2 separate regions of the Homo sapiens genome follow, and region 2 is linked to region 1. A link means that fine-mapping ties the variant in region 1 to the expression of a gene that starts in the linked region. Tissue or cell type: aorta. Region 1 holds a variant in brackets; the other region holds the start of a gene. All regions are shown on one strand. Distances are between the middles of the regions.

What was found. PIP is the estimated chance that this variant, and not a neighbour inherited with it, causes the effect.
Region 2: it holds the start of HMGCL, and the variant in region 1 is fine-mapped to the expression of HMGCL in aorta (GTEx, PIP 0.99).

What each region holds. Positions count from the first base shown.
Region 1 is chr1:23,705,566-23,708,321 of GRCh38, reverse strand. No RefSeq gene overlaps it. Among named protein-coding and RNA genes, the nearest start is that of RPL11, 15 kb to the right of the region's middle. The variant C/T (reference allele first, on the strand shown) is at 1,178.
Region 2 is chr1:23,824,357-23,826,979 of GRCh38, reverse strand. HMGCL (3-hydroxy-3-methylglutaryl-CoA lyase) reads left to right here and starts at 1,551. Exons shown (of 9, transcript NM_000191.3): 1 at 1,551-1,624. The coding sequence starts at 1,565. LOC105376861 (a long non-coding RNA gene) reads left to right here. Exons shown (of 3, transcript XR_947068.2): 2 at 797-896; 3 at 1,392-1,440. RefSeq lists an enhancer at 682-1,550.

The sequences.
Region 1 (2,756 bases):
GCTAGGGGCCAGAAACTTGAGTCATTCTCAACTTCACTTTCTCTCTTATCTTTCATCCAGTTGTCCATGGAAATCTTGCTGGTTTACCTTCAAGATGTATCTATCATCTGCCCATGTCTCACCACCTCCAATGCTGCCACGACGTCTGGACCAGCATGAATGCCTGGCCTCAACCTCCCGGGCTCAAGCCATCTTCCTGCCTCAGCCTCCCAAGCAGATAGGACTACAGTTGCACAAGAGCACTGAGCTGACAATACTTTCTGATAAGTCTTCCTGCTTCCACCCTTACCCCCCATATTCTGTTTTTAATATGCAGTTACAGTTTTAAAATGGAAGTCAGATCATGTGATGCCTCTGCCAACCTAGCAAGGAGTGATTCATTTCGCTCCCAGTAAAGGCCATAGTCTTTCTAACACCCTACACAGCCTGCACAGCGGCTGCCCATCATCTCTGACCCCCTCCTCCTCTTGCCCTCTCACACTGCCTGGCTGTAGTGGGCTCAGTGCTATAACGCACCTCTGCCTGAAGGCCTTTGCTCTAGTCTTCCATCTCTCCAAAAGCTCCTCCTCACAGATCCAAGTGCCCAACCCTTACCCACTTCAAATCTCATCTTCTCAGTGAGGCCTCCTCTGACCAGCCTTTCCTCACCCCCTCACCCCACTCTACTTTTTCTTTTCCCAACACACATACCATCCTATAACATTCTCTGTAATTTACTCGTGGATTGCTTATTGTCTGTCTCCCTCCATTAGAATGTAAGCTCCAAGGCAGGGATCTTTGTCTTTGTTCACTGATGTATCCTATGCCCCTTAAACAGTGCCCAGCACATGGTAGACGCTCAAAAAAAAGTTACTGGATAAGTGACTTTAGTGGACACACTTTTGTTTTGTTTTTGAGATGGAGTCTCGCGCTGTCACCCAGGCTGGAGTGCAGTGGTGCGATCTCGGCTCACTGCAAGCTCCGCCTCCCAGGTTCACACCATTCTCCTGCCTCAGCCTCCCGAGTAGCTGGGACTACAGGCGCCCGCCGCCACGCCCGGCTAATTTTTTTTTGTATTTTTAGTACAGACGGGGTTTCACCGTGTTAGCCAGGGTGGTCTCGATCTCCTGATCTGGTGATCTGCCCGCCTCGGCCTCCCAAAGTGCTGGGATTACAGGCATGAGCCAGCGCGCCCGGC[C/T]GTGGACACACTTTTAAAAAATTTTTCTTTTTGTTTTTTCTCTTTTTTTTTTGAGACAAAGGCTTGCTTGCTCTGTCTCCCAGGCTGGAGTGCAGTGGTGTGATCTTGGCTCACTGCAACCTCTGCCTCCCAGGTTCAAGCAATTCTCCTGCAGTAGTTGGGACTATAGGTACCCGCCACCATGCCTGGCTAATTTTTTTTTTTTTTGAGATGGAGTTTTCGCTCTTGTTGCCCAGGCTGGAGTGCAATGGCGCAATCTCAGCTCACCGCAACCTCCGCCTCCCGGGTTCAAGCGATTCTCCTGCCTCAGCCTCCCTAGTAGCTGGGATTACAGGCATGTGCCACCACGCTCGGCTAATTTTGTATTTTTTTTTAGTAGAGATGGAGTTTCTCCATGTTGGTCAGGCTGGTCTCGAACTCCCGACCTCAGATGATCCTCCCGTCTCGGCCTCCCAAAGTGCTGAGATTACAGGCATGAGCCACCATGCCCGGCCTCTGCCTGGCTAATTTTTGTGGTAGAAACAGGGTTTCACTGATGTTGCCCAAGCTGGTCTCCTGAGCTCAAGCAGTCCACCTGCCTCAGCCTCCCAAAGTGCTGGGATTACAGGCGTGAGCCACCGTGCCTGGCCTTTTTATTTTATTTTTTTTAAGACACAGGTGTCCCACTCTTACCCAGGATGAAGTGCAGTGGTGTGATCACAGCTCACTGCAGCCTTCAACTCCTGAGATCAAGCAATCCTCCTGCCTCAGCCTCCCAAGTAGCTGGGACCAAAGACATGCACCACTACACCTGGCTAATTTTTATTTTTATTTTTAATTTTTTGAGACAGAGTCTCACTCTGTCACCCAGGCTGGAGTGCAGTGGCGCAATCTTGGCTCACTGCAACCTCTGCCTCCCGGGTTCAAGTTATTCTCCTGCCCCAGCCTCCTGAGTAGCTGGGACTACAGGCGCCCACCACGCCTAGCTAATTTTTTTGTATTTTTAGTAGAGATGGGGTTTCACCATGTTCGCCAGGTTGGTCTTGATCTCTTGACCTTGTGATCTGCCTGCCTCGGCCTCCCAAAGTGCTGGGATTACAGGCGTGAGCCACCACGCCCGGCCTATTTTTAATTTTTGTTTGTTTGAAATGGAATCTCACTCTGTTACCCAGGCTGGAGTGCAATGGCACAATCTCGGCTCACTGCAACCTCTGCCTCCCGGGTTCAAGCGATTCTCCTGTCTCAGCCTCCCAAGCAGCTGGGATTACGGGCACCTGCCAACACCCCGCTAATTTTTGTATTTTCATTAGAGGCGGGGTTTCACCATATTTGTCAGGCTGGTCTCAAACTCCTGACCTCAGGTGACCCACCTGCCTCAGCCTTCCAAAGTGCTGGGATTACAGGCGTGAGCCACCTCACCCAGCCGGCTAATTTAGATAAAAAAATATGTAGCAATGGGGGGTCTTGCTATGTTGCCCAGGCTGGTCTCAAACTTCTGGCTTCATGCAATCCTTCCAAATGAGCCACAACACCCAGCCAGTCACATTTTTTAAACAGTTACATCTTTATTTTAGTATACTAGAAAGTAATACAATAAACA
Region 2 (2,623 bases), 120 kb before region 1:
TACAAACATTATCTGGGCACGGTGATGGGCACTTGTAATCCCAGCTACTCCGGAGGCTGAGGCAGGAGAATCGCTTGAACCCCGGGGTCAGAGGTTGCAGTGAGCCGAGATCACGCCACCGCACTCCAGCCTGGGCAACACAGTGAGACTTCGTCTTAATAAATAAATATAGATGGATAGATAGATAGATAGATAGATAGATAGATAGATAGATGATAGATAGATAAAATTCTAGTTCTTTGTTTTAAATAAAGTTTGTACCCACTAAATTGATACTGTGACCAATTAGTGGGGTACAACATACAGTTTGAAAACAGTGCTCTGGCCGGGGGCGGTGGCTCTCGCCTGTAATCCCAGCATTTTGGGAGGCCAAGGCGGGCGGATCACCTGAGGTCAGGAATTTGAGACCAGCCTGGCCAACACGGTGAAACCTCGTTTCTACTAAAAACACTAAAATTAGCCAGGCGTGGTGGTGCACACCTGTAATCCCAGCTACTCGGGAGACTGAGGCACGAGACTCTCTTGAACTCGGGAGGCGGAGGTTGCAGTGAGCCGAAATCGCGCCACTGCACTCCAACCTGGGTGACAGAGTGAGACTCCATCTCAAACAAACAAAACAAACCAACAAAACAAAAGAGAGAAAAACAGTGTTCTCAGCATTTTCTTTGCCTCAGGGCCATTGCGAATGCTACACCGTCTGGAAAGTTTTTCTTGTATCCTCTTCACCTGGATAGATTTTTTTTTTTTTCAGCCCTTCAGAAAGTACACCTAGATAAATCTTAATCATTTTTTTAAGGTATGAAATCTAAGGATGCCCCCTCTCTGGAGCTGCCTGCCTGTGTTTGAATCCTGAAGATCGTGATGCGTGAGTTAATCCGTGCTAAGAACTCGGAACAGTGAGTAGCAAATCGTTGCTTCTTATAGTGCAAGTTAGAAATGACACAACTGTTTGTGTAACTATTAATATGTGTCTCCTCACACCTCCCACACTCTAAACACAAGAAGCCACAGAATTTGGTTAATTTCTTTTCATGTTTTTGTTTGTTTGGTTTTGGGTTTTTTGTTTTGGACAGGCTCTCACTGTGTCGCCCAGGCTGGAGTGCAGTGGCACGATCTCCGCTCGCTGCAACCTCGCCTCCCGGGTTCAAACAATTCTCCTGCCTCAGCTTCCCAAGTAGCTGGGATTACAGGCGCCCACCACCACGCCCGGCTTTTTTTTTTTTTTTTTTTTTTTTTTTTTTTTTTTGGATTTTTTGGAGAGACGGGGGTTTCGCCATGTTAGCCAGGCTGGTCTCGAATTCCTGACCTCAGGTGATCTACCCGCCTCGGTCTCCCAAAGTGCTAGGATTACATGGTGTCCAGGCTGATTCTGTTCATCTTTATATTCCTAGCGTCTCACTTGGCCTGGCATGGAAGAGGCGCTCGGAATCAAAACGGAGAGAGGCTGGGGGTGGAGCCAGCTTCGGAAGTCACGGCGGAGGGGCGGGGGCGGGGCCGCGCCCACCAGACGAGCCATCGGTCACGCGGGGCCCAGCTGGACTGCCGCGGGGGATTCTGGGCCAAGATGGCAGCAATGAGGAAGGCGCTTCCGCGGCGACTGGTGGGCTTGGCGTCCCTCCGGGCTGTAAGTGCCCCGAGCCGCCGAGGCGGCGGCCCTGCAGGCACTCTGACTGTCAGGGTTGGGGGCTTGGCCCGTGGTGACTGCTCTCTTAGAGGCGAGGCCGGACAGCTCTCAGGCCAGAGTCGGGAGGGCGTTGGAGTCCTGGACCCTCCCTTTTCCCCTCAAATCCTTTGAAGGGGATGGGAAAACTGAGGTCCGGAGAGGTGGAGTGACTTGTCTGGGTCATGGAGACCTGGGACGCCATCCTAGGTGCCCTGATTCCCCGCCCAGGGCCCTTTCCGATGACCCTGGCCCCTTTCTCCCTCTAATTGAACTTCAGACCTCTCCAACTCTTCATTAGTGAAAATCAAGAACACGCTTCCATTTCCTTCGTCTCCATTTCCAACTGTTGTTGCTTTTAGAGATGCTTGGGGAACTATCCCAGCCTACCGAGCGGGACTTGCGTTGATTGGAGCCAAGCTGTGATTCCCTTGGAATTGCACTTTGATCCTGTTCGATCCTGATGTTTTCCCCTCTCCCATTCTCAGCGCAGAAAAAGTGTGGGAGACGTAGCTGTATGGAGCAGAAAAAATAAAAGCTGAAGCTAGGGTGTCCCAATAGTTCTGCCACTTTCTAGACTTAATGACATAGTTATTTACTTTCTCTAAACCTCAGCTCTTTCGTCTGTAAAACGGACAACATTCCCTTGGGGTTGTTTTGGAAATTAGAGAAAATGTAAGTAACACATCTGGCAGTGTTCTGGCTCCTAATAAGTGATCAGTCGGTGGTGGTATTTTTACCTTAGGGAGTTGAGAAGGAGTTATAACTGTATAGAGGGAAAAATACACTCCTGGCACTGGGTCCCTCTCAGAAAGCCACGTTAATATCTTTACTTGGCCATTCACCTGCACCACCTGCTCATGTGTAAAATGAAGATGGCAATTCCAACTTGGAAAGTTAAACGCAATAGTAGATATTAATAAGCTTTTAAGAAATATTTGGTGTAATGAGATGGCCCTCCAT